4 separate regions of the Homo sapiens genome follow, and all the other regions are linked to region 4. The links come from fine-mapping of genetic effects on gene expression. A gene starts in region 4. Each other region holds a variant in brackets. All regions are shown on one strand. Distances are from middle to middle. Region 1 has its middle 37 kb from the start of VCL. Region 2 has its middle 25 kb from the start of VCL. Region 3 overlaps AP3M1 (adaptor related protein complex 3 subunit mu 1). Region 4 holds the start of VCL (vinculin).

The links. PIP is the estimated chance that this variant, and not a neighbour inherited with it, causes the effect. A credible set is the group of variants that fine-mapping cannot tell apart.
Region 1: its variant is the best candidate, but not a certain one, in a credible set for the expression of VCL in whole blood (TOPMed, PIP 0.57).
Region 2: its variant is the best candidate, but not a certain one, in a credible set for the expression of VCL in whole blood (TOPMed, PIP 0.67).
Region 3: its variant is the best candidate, but not a certain one, in a credible set for the expression of VCL in whole blood (INTERVAL, PIP 0.66).

Annotation. Positions count from the first base shown.
Region 1 is chr10:73,959,537-73,962,225 of GRCh38, forward strand. No RefSeq gene overlaps it. Among named protein-coding and RNA genes, the nearest start is that of VCL, 37 kb to the right of the region's middle. RefSeq lists a silencer at 355-649. The variant C/T (reference allele first, on the strand shown) is at 1,438.
Region 2 is chr10:73,971,480-73,974,168 of GRCh38, forward strand. No RefSeq gene overlaps it. Among named protein-coding and RNA genes, the nearest start is that of VCL, 25 kb to the right of the region's middle. The variant C/T (reference allele first, on the strand shown) is at 1,622.
Region 3 is chr10:74,131,528-74,134,216 of GRCh38, forward strand. AP3M1 (adaptor related protein complex 3 subunit mu 1) reads right to left here. Exons shown (of 9, transcript NM_012095.6): 4 at 2,500-2,637. Among named protein-coding and RNA genes, the nearest start is that of AP3M1, 18 kb to the right of the region's middle. The variant A/G (reference allele first, on the strand shown) is at 1,619.
Region 4 is chr10:73,996,433-73,999,101 of GRCh38, forward strand. VCL (vinculin) reads left to right here and starts at 1,684. Exons shown (of 22, transcript NM_014000.3): 1 at 1,684-1,943. The coding sequence starts at 1,776. RefSeq lists silencers at 1,293-1,652, 1,983-2,032 and enhancers at 1,713-1,912, 1,985-2,636.

The sequences.
Region 1 (2,689 bases), 37 kb before region 4:
AAACTCCTGACCTCAGGCGATCCACCCGCCTTGGTCTCCCAAAGTGCTGGGATTCCAGCCGTGAGTCACTGTGCTTGGCCATGGTTTACTTCTTAATGCCTATTATTGGTCAAGGCTTAATTAGAGAAGCAGAATTATCAGGCACGGCATAGAGTAAGATGTTTCTTGTGGGGTTTTGGTGTTATGCAATGTGGGAACTGGTTAAGCAGTTTGTATACAACAGTTGCTTCTGTTTCTGGTGCTGGGACTGAAGTCAGAAATAACAGGTAGACATGAAGTATGGGACAGTAAGGACCAGTGGGAGTCCAAAAGAACCAGAGGGCACCCACAGGATGAAATAGAGCCTGTATCAATGTCTCACTGCCTCTAAAACTTCCTACTTCAATTATGTGGGCGACCTGCAGGAATTGCTGAACCTTCATCATAAAGCTGAACACAGACCTGACTCAGGGACTGAAAATGCTGAAGGAAGATCTGTCATGGGAGCTGAAGGAGATGTAGGCTCAAGTCTATCCCATGGCCACAGGGTGAGCTAGCAGATCTGAGATACCATAAGTTAGAACGGCACCTGCCTCTACACTGACCTTCTGAGCATAAGCATGTTTGCTTCACCTCTGCCCTCCAATCTTGTGCAAATTTTCTGTGGCCAACCCTAGCCCAGAACCATACAGAGAAAGAAATTCTGAAAAACATAGTTTCAGTTTAGCTAAACTGACATAGTACAAAGCCACTATGTATTTGCCAAACCTTCTTCAATTAGCATGGTTTTGTTTGTTTGTTTGTTTGAGACAGAATCTCACTCTGTCACCCAGGCTGGAGTGCAGTGGCACTATCTGGGCTCCCTGCAACCTCCACCTCCCGGGTTCCAGTGATTCTCCTGCCTCAGTCTCCTGGGTATCTGGGATTACAGGTGCATGCCACCACACCTGGCTAATTTTTGTATTTTTTAGTAGAGATAGGGTTTCACCATGTGGGCCAGGCTCGTCTCAAACTCCTGACCTCAAGTGATTCACCCACCTCAGCATGTATTATTTTCATAACCAGGAGAAAGAACACCCTTTAAAACATCTCAAAATACCCAAATGGCTAATAAATATACAAAAAGACACCAATTCATTAATTGGCAAGAAAATGCAAGTTAAAATACAATAAGATATCCTTGTACATTCACCAGAATGGCTAAAATGAAAAAGACAGACAACACAGTATTGGTGAGGACATAGAGCAACTGGAACTTTCACATGTGGCTAGTGAGAATGTAAATTGCCAGTTTAGAAAACCATTTGACAACTATCAAAGTGGAACATATGCAAAAGGTGTGATAAGCAATTACGTTTCTAAAAAAATGCATGTTCATATACATAAAAACATCTATACGAATGTTTGGCTGGGTGTGGTGGCTCACGCCTGTAATCCAAGCACTTTGGGAGGCCGAGG[C/T]GGGTGGATCACGAGGTCAGGAGATCGAGACCATCCTGGCTAACATGGTGAAACCCTGTCTCTACTAAAAATACAAAAAATTAGCCAGGCGTGGTTGCAGACGCCTGTAGTCCCAGCTACTCAGGAGGCTGAGGCGAGAGAATGGCGTGAACCCAGGAGGCAGGGCTTGCAGTGAGCCGAGCCGAGATCGCGCCACTGCACTCCAGCCTGGGCGACAGAGCGGGATTCTGTCACCAAAAAAAACACGAAAAAACAATGTTCATAGTGGCACTATATGTAAAAGCTAAGAACAGAAACAATTCAAATGTCCACCAACAATAGAATGGATAAATAAATCATGGTGAATTCATACAATGGAGTGCTACACAGCAACGGGAATAAATAATGTATCACTAAGCACAACCACATGGATGACTATCACAACCATAATATTACATGGAAGATATCAGACACAGAAGAGCATATACTGATGGTTCCATTTATGTCAAGTTCAAAAATAGGTAAAATTAATCTATGCTGTTCACCCATGGATAAGAATTACCCTTGGGAGATTAGTGACTAGAAGGTGTCAAGAGGGGGCTTTTGGGGTGCTCGCGATGTTCTGTTCCTTCCTTTAGGTATTAGTCACTCGGGAGTGTTTTGCCTTTTGCAAATTTATAGATATTTATGTAATTTGTATATGGTTTGTGCACTTTTCTGTATATATGTTATACCAACAAAAAGTTAATTAAAAGAAAAAATTAGTAGTCCCTGGTTCTGGTAACTAACAATAACTACTCATTATACCACAAGTTGAGGGGATCAAATACAAAAATGTGTATTACAGTGTTTGGAGAAACAACTGGGGAATACATAGATGTAGGGACAAGGAAAGAGAATAGAATGTTGAACCTGGTTTGGTATTGAACCTGGTTTTTTGAGTTTTTTTTTTTTTTGAGACAGAGTCTTGCTCTGTCGCCTAGGCTGGAGTGCCGTGGCATGATCTCAGCTCACTGCAACTTCCGCCTCCTGGGTTCAAGTAATTCTCCTGCCTCAGCCTCCTGAGTAGCTGGGACTACAGGCGTGTGCCACCATGCCTGGCTAATTTTTTTGTATTTTTTAGTACAGACAGGGTTTCACCACATTGCCCAGGCTGGTCTCGAACTCCTGACCTCATGGTCTGCCCACCTCGGCCTCCCAAAGTGCTGTGATTACAGGCGTGAGCCACTGCAGCCTACCTTGAACCTGGTTTTTACAAATTGTAGTAAAATAC
Region 2 (2,689 bases), 25 kb before region 4:
AATTCCACAGGCAGTGAATTAAAATGGAATACTCAAATCAGCTATAGAGAAATGAGACAGAATCTTTGGCAAGATGCTAGATTATTAACAGATTTCTTTTGCATGGAAACAAAAAGGCTTAAGGGTCAGAAAGGAGTTCGGTTAGAATTTCTTCACTTCAAAGGTCCAAACTATCAATGGAGAAATAAAATTAACTCTTTGTAGACTACACAATTAATATTCATCTCAGGATCAATTTTTGTGAAAAATGGCACCACTACTTCATGAATTATTTTTTGCCCAGGAAATTCTCCCTCCTGATTTGTAAAATGGAAAAGAATAACTAAAGCATGATACAGGCTTTAAGTAAGCAGTCTCCATTTCCTCAGTAAATCTAAAACACAGACAGCAAGGAAACAGGGTCAAAGCACTATTTTCCAGCTTAAAGCACAATTTGGTAACGTAAGAATGCATTTACATTAGTAAATACACAGAATTAAGGTTGATTTCATGCATCTTAAAATTATTTTTTAAATTACAAAAGCAATGCATGCTCATTATAAAAATGCAGCAGTGTGTAAATTATTAATAATAATTACTTTTTTTTTTTGAGACAAGGTCTTGCTCTGTTGCCCATGCTGAAGTGCAGTGGTGCAATCATGTCTCACGGCAGCCTTGAACTCTTGGACTCAAGCAGTTCTCCCACCTCAGCCTCTCAGTGTTGGGATTACAGGCATGAGCCACTGTGGCTGGCCAATAATTACTATTAGTGAACATTACAATGTGCTGGTCACTGGGTTTAGTGCTATCTGATTCAATCCTCACAACAATCTTATGAGGTAGTTATATTTTTCTCCATTTTATAGACAAAGAAACTGAAGCTCAGAGAGTTAAATAAATTGCCTAAGGCAAACATCTTGTAAGAGGTAGAATCAGGATTTGTTTTGTTTTGTTTTGTTTTGTTTGAGACAGAGTCTTACTCTGTCACCCAGGCTGTAGTGCAGTGGCACAATCTCAGCTCACTGCAACCTCTGCCTCCCGGGTTCAAGCGATTCTCCTGTCTCTGCCTCCCAAGTAGCTGGGACTACAGGTGCGTGCCACCACACCGGCAAATTTTTGTATTTTTAGTAGAGACGGGGTTTCACCATATTGGCCAGGCTGGTCTTGAACTCCTGACCTTGTGATCCACCCGCCTCGGCCTCCCAAAGTAGAATCAGGATTTTAAACTATGCAGTTTCACTTCACCATCTAAGCTCTTAAATTCCTTTATACCTTGAGTGAAAGTTCCTATTAACTTCTTCTCCACTTTCCTCGCCCCACATTAACTATCACTTACTGTTCTCCATATATCAGAAAGATAAAAGTTTAATGATTGGAAAATAATCATTGACTTTCTCATAAAAATATCAATTTGGCTGGTCGCAGTGGCTTACGCCTGTAATCCCAGCACTTTGGGAGGCCTAGGCAGGCAGATCACCTGAGGTCAGAAGTTGGAGACTAGCCTGTCCAATATGGAGGAACCCCATCTCTACTAAAAATACAAAATTAGCAGGGCGTGGTGGCACATGCCCGTAATCCCAGCTACCCAGGAAGCTGAGGCAGGATAATCTCTTGAACCCGGGAGGTGGAGGTTGCGGTGAGC[C/T]GAGATCGCGCCATTGCACTCCAGCCTGGGCAACAAGAATGAAATTCCGTCTCAAAAAAAAAAAAAAAAAATCAATTCATGGACCTATGTACATACCCAAGAGGAATGAAAACACATGTCCATACAAAAACGTGTACATGAATGGCCAGGTGTGGTGGCTCACGCCTGTAATCCCAGCACTTTGGGAGGGCGAGGTGGGTGGATCACAAAGTCAGGAGATTGAGACCATCCTGGCCAACACGGTGAAACCCCATCTCTACTAAAAATACAAAAATTAGCTGGGTGTGATGGCACATGCCTGTAATCCCAGTTACTCAGGAGGCTGAGGCACATGAATTGCTTGAACCTGGGAAGTGGAGGTTGCAGTGAGCCGAGATCGAGCCATGCACTCCAGCCTGGGCCACAGAGTGAGAGTCTGTCTCAAAAAACAAACAAAAAACATGAATTTTCATGATAACATTTTTCATAATAGCCAAAAAGTAGAAACCATCCAAATGCCCCATTAACTGGTGATGAATCAGCAAAATGCAATATAGTCAGATATGGAATATTATTTGGTCATAAAAAGGAATGAAGTACTGATACATGCTACAACATTAATAACCTTGAAAACATTTTGCTAAGTGAAAGAAGCTGGTCACAAAGGACCACATAGTGCATGATTCCATTTATATGAAATGTCCAGAGTATGCAAATCTATTGTCACAGAAAGTAGATTAGTGGTACCTAGGACAAGGGGTAGGGATGGTGCAAATGAGTAGGAGGACTGCAAATGAGTAGGAGGTTTCTTTTGGGGTGATAAAAATATTCCAAAATTGGCTGGGCATTACAGGTGACTCATGCCTGTAATCCCAGCACTTTGGGAGGCTGAGGTGGGCAGATTGCTTGAAGCCAGGCATTCAAGGCCAGCCTGGATAACATGGTGAAACCCCAACTCTAGAAAAAATACAAAAAATTACTGTGGTGTGGTGACGCAGTCCTGTAGTCCCAGCTACTCAGGAGGCTGAGGTAGGAGGATTGCTTGAGCCCAGGATGCAGAGGTTGCAGTGAGCCATGATTGCACCACTG
Region 3 (2,689 bases), 140 kb after region 4:
ATAGGATCCATAATAGAAAGATATCTCTTTTTTTTTAAGAGACAGGGTCTCCCTCTGCCATCCAGGCTGGAGTACAGTGGTGTGAACATAGTTCACCACAGCATTGAACTCCTGGGCTCAAGCAATCCTCCTGCCTCAGCCTTCTGAATAGGTAGGATTAAGGAAGCCATGCCTAGCTAATCTTTTAAATTTTTGATAGATATGGGGTCTTGCTATGTTGCCTAGGCTGGTCTTGAACTCCTGGGCTCAAGTGATCTTCCTGCCTAAGCCTCCCAAAGTGCTGGGATTACAGGTGTGAGCCACCGTGCCTGGCAAAAATCTATTATTCTATAAGATGGAATGTTATAATGAAAAGGGGACTCATGGAAGAGAAGATATTGACTATAATTCACAATAAGCCATCATTACATATTAACAAGTTGTGTGACCTGGAACAGTTCACTTAACCCTTCTGGGCTTTCCTTATGTGTAAAATAAATGTAAAGGAAGGACTAGATTTTTTTTCTTTTTTCTTTTTTTGTTTTTTTAGAGATGGAGTCTCACTCTGTCACCCAGGCTGGAGTGCAGTGGTGCAATCTTGGCTCACTGCAACCTCTGCCTCCCAGGGTCAAGCAATTCTCCTGCCTCAGCCTCCCAAGTAGCTGGGTTTACAGGCGCCTGCCACCACGCCCAGCTAATTTTTGTATTTATAGTAGAGACGGGGTTTTACCATGTTGGCCAGGCTGGTCTCAAACTCCTGACCTCAAGTGATCTGCCTGCCTCGGCCTCCCAAAGTGCTGGAATTACAGGCGTGATCCACCATGCCCGGCTGCTATTTTTAATAATAAAATTTTACGATTCTTATAGAGTACTATTGTTTTGTCTGGTTAAAAAGATAATCAGATTGGGTGTGGTGGCTGATGCCTGTAATCCCAGCACTTTGGGAGGCTGAGGTAGGTAAACTGATTGAGCCCAGGAGTTCAAGACCAGCCTGGGCAACATGGTGAGACCCTGTCTGTACAAAAAAAACAAATAAAAGTTAGCCAGGCATGGTGGCGTGTGGCGTGTACCTCCTGATTGGCTGGGACTATAGGCTACTCAGGAGTTTGAGGTAGGAGGATCACATGAGCTGGAGGTCAAGGCTACAGTAAGCAGGGACTGCGCCAATGCACTCCAGCCTAGGCAAAAGAGCAAGACCCTGTACTTAAAAAAAAAAAAGAAAGTGAAAAATAATCAGATAGGGGCTTTTACCAGAAGTACTGCACATAATGTAGTAGCAAAAGCATGGTATATAGCAGATTTTCAATAAATGTTAGAAGGAATAAATAGCAAGAGGTAGAGGTACATAGGGTAATAATTGGCTTAAAGTAAGGCATTATGAGTTCTGATTTACATGTTTGGCAGACCTCAACTAGTGGTTATGAAAATTATATGTAACCTATGGGCAAAATAAACAGATTTATGGGCCAGGTGCAGTGGCTCACGCCTGTAATCCCAGCCCTTTGGGAGGCCAAGGCAGGTGGATCACTTGAGGTTAGGAGCTTGAGACCAGCCTGGCCAACATTGTGAAACCCCGTCTCTACTAAAAATACAAAAAATTAGCCAGGGCCGGGAGCGGTGGCTCACGCCTGTAATCCTA[A/G]CACTTTGGGAGGCCGAAACGGGCAGATCACCTAAGTTCAGGAGTTCGAGACCAGCCTGACCAACGTGGAGAAATCCCATCTCCACCAAAAACACAAAATTAGCTGGGCATGCTGGTGCATGCCTGTAATCCCAGGTACTCGGGAGGCTGAGGCAGAAGAACTGCTTGAACCCGGGAGGCGGAGGTTGCGGTGAGCTGAGATTGCACCATTGCACTCCACCCTGGGCAATAAGAGTGAAACTGCGTCTCAAAAAAAAAAAAAAAATTTAGCCAGGTGTGGTGGCTCATGCCTGTAATCCCAGCTACTTGGGAAGCTGAAGCAGCAGGATCGCTTGAATCCAGGAGGTGAAGGTTCCAGTGAGCCAAGATCATGTGATTGCACTCCAGCCTGGACAACAGTGTGAGACCCCGTCTCAAATAAATAAATAAATAAACAAACAGATTTAAAAATCATCAGATAATGAATGCCTTTCCACCGAAACCATACTGCCAAAGGACTTCAATTTTCTTTTCCTTTCTTCTTCTTTTTTTTTTTTTTGTTGAGACAGAGCCAGGCTGGAGTGCAATGGCATGATCTTGTCTCATTGCAACCTCTGCCTCCTGGGTTCAAGCAATTTTCCTGCCTCAGCCTCCCGAGTAGCTGGGATTACAGGTGCGCGCCACCATGCCCGGCTAATTTTTTGTATCTTTAGTAGAGACAGAGTTTCACCATGTTGGCCAGGCTGGTCTCGAACTCTGACCTCATGTTCCGCCTGCCTTGGCCTCCCAAAGGGCTGGGATTACAGGCGTGAGCCACCGCGCCCGGCCAGGACTTCAGTTTTCTATTCATCTGTGTCAGATGAATTGTTTTTCCCCAAATAAGATGACATGCACACAATTACCTGATTTATCTATAATTGCGTCTATTTCTTCAACAACATCAAAATAGGCTTCATTGTTTGTGTACTTTACCCCTGCCCGACGCCATGGTATGTTGGACAGCTGCCCGGTGGGGAGTGTGTCCCCAACATTACTACTGCCTAGAAACCAAAAAAGGAGAAGGCAAAGCTGATGTATAAAACAGTCATGAGA
Region 4 (2,669 bases):
CACCTGGCTAATTTTTGTATTTTTAGTTGAGACGGGGTTTCACCAGGTTGGCCAGGCTGGTCTTGAACCCCTGACCTCAGGTGATCTGCCTGCCTCAGCCTCCCAAAATGCTGGGATTACAGGCGTGAGCCACCGTGCCTGGCCCCATCACCCAAATATTTATACTATTAACACAAAGTAATGGGCAGAGAAAACAGCTGTGGTGGTTGTGGTAGGACTAGACAAAAATTTTCATTTGATGTGAGAATCTTTTGCTTGGAGGCATTACTGAAAGTGTTTACCTCAGAATGGGAAAGCTTGGGCAAAAGCGAATTTGAAGTAAGTAAGACGTTTGGAAGATGTCTTTTTTTTTTTTTTTTTTTTTTTGAGACAGAGTCTTGCTCTGTCGCCCAGGATGGAGTGTAGTGGCGCGATCTCCGCTCACTGCAAGCTCCGCCTCCCGGGTTCACGCCATTGTCCTGCCTCAGCCTCATGAGTAACTGGGACTACAGGCGCCCGCCACCACGCCTGGCTATTTTTTTTGTATTTTTAGTAGATACGGGGTTTCACCGTGTTAGACAGGATGGCCTAGATCTCCTGACCTCGTGATCCGCCCGCCTCAGCCTCCCAAAGTGCTGGGATTACAGGCGTGAGCCATCGCGCCCGGCCTGGAAGATGTCTTATACAAAGCGTGAGGGAACTGGATAATTTGGTCTTACCTATCAAAATATAAAATGCATATACTTTTGCGTTTTTCTCTTTCCTGGTAGGCATTTGCGCTAGATAAATACACAGATGCACAGCACAGGGGTAAGTACAATTCATGCAGAATTGTTTTTTAATAGTGAAAACCAGGACCCAACCCAAGTCCATGAGTAGGAAATTGGTTCTGTAAATAGTTTTATTTCATGCAATGGAATATCATGCAGTCATTAAGAAGAATGAGGTAGACCTCTACCAGCAGTGAAAGATAAGGGCATTTTAATCAAGGGCAATCATACCTAGTTCCAGGAAAATGTTTATTAATCTCATTTAGTTAGAAAATATATATGTAGAAGTGAATCTATAGACAAGTCTAGAAGGCTACACACCCAGCTGTTAAACAGAATGTCTTTGAGGAGGGCAGGGGGCGGAGTCTGCGTTTACGTGAATGGGACGCTGCTGTTTCTCAGTGCACCTCTGCTGTTTGAATCTTTTACTAAAAACCTTCCCATGCATTGCTGGGAGGGAATGGAAGGAGTATTTTGAGGGTTTCGTGTGAAGGGAAAAGTTGAGGAGGGGACGTGGGAGACCCCTTGGTCTCATCAAACTCTAGCGCCGCTTGAGGTGAGGAGACCCCGCCCCGCTGAGGTGATTCTGCAGAGGGGCGGAGCCCCCCAGATCCGAGGCGGGAGGCGGCCCGGGGGCGGGACCAGCCGGCTCCAGCGGCCCGCTCCGCTCCCACCATGCCCTTATAAGGAGCGCCCGGCGTTAGGGCTCGGGAATCCGGTAGCAATCCCGGCGGCTCAGCCCCAATCCCAGGCCCCTCCCTTAGGAATGGGGGAGGGGCGGGGTTTGGCGGCGCGGTGGCTGGGGCGGAGCATCTCGAAAAGGGACCAGTAGGAGTGGCGGCCCAGGTCTGAGCTGCGCTGCCATTGGGCGCGGCGACGAGAGGGGGCGGGGAGCCCGTGAGGCTGGTTACGCCGAGGGAAGCCCCGACTCCGTAGTCGCTGCACAGTCTGTCTCTTCGCCGGTTCCCGGCCCCGTGGATCCTACTTCTCTGTCGCCCGCGGTTCGCCGCCCCGCTCGCCGCCGCGATGCCAGTGTTTCATACGCGCACGATCGAGAGCATCCTGGAGCCGGTGGCACAGCAGATCTCCCACCTGGTGATAATGCACGAGGAGGGCGAGGTGGACGGCAAAGCCATTCCTGACCTCACCGCGCCCGTGGCCGCCGTGCAGGCGGCCGTCAGCAACCTCGTCCGGGTGAGCGCGCAGGGCCTGGCGCGGGAGCGGGCGCGGGAGGTATCCCCGGGGCCCCGGCCCGCGTCGCGGCTGCCTGTGGCCGGCTCGCTGGCCGTGGCTTTCCGCGTGGGTTCCGGAGCCAGGCGCCGAGGGTTCGAATGGCCTCTTCTCCGCCCTGTGACCTTGAGCGAGTCCTGAGCCTCTCCGGGCCTCAGTGTCCTCATCTATAAAATGGGAGCAGTCATGAAAAAGGCTGCCTTGCGGGCTTGTCGTGAAGATATGGCGAGGTATTATTCGTGGAGTGCCTCGCGCGGCGTGTGGCCCACAGCAGACACCCAATAAATGAGAGTTGCTGGGATGTCCGAGGGTCCCTGCCCCGCGCAGGCTTCGCCCCCACGTTGACTTCCTCGCTCTCAGCGCCTTTTAGGCCTCCTCGATCTGGCTGTGCGGGGGAGGGAGAGCGGGCCTTCCCACGGATCCCTTGCCTTCTCTTCTAGGGATCCTTATTTGAGCCACGTTGTCCTCCTTTCTAATACTTCTGCCCCTCACCCTGAGACCCGCCTCGCCCACCCCCGCTCCCCAGAGCTCCCTGTATTCCGCCCTTTTATTCACTTGCCTCACTCTCTGTCGCCTCCTCCTCCCTCCTGGGCATTTTACTTATGCTCACTCCTCTGGCACTCTCACACCTTTATGCAGTCATTCGTGACCACAAGCCCGGTTTTTCCTTCCGCTCAGCCCTGCTGCCCT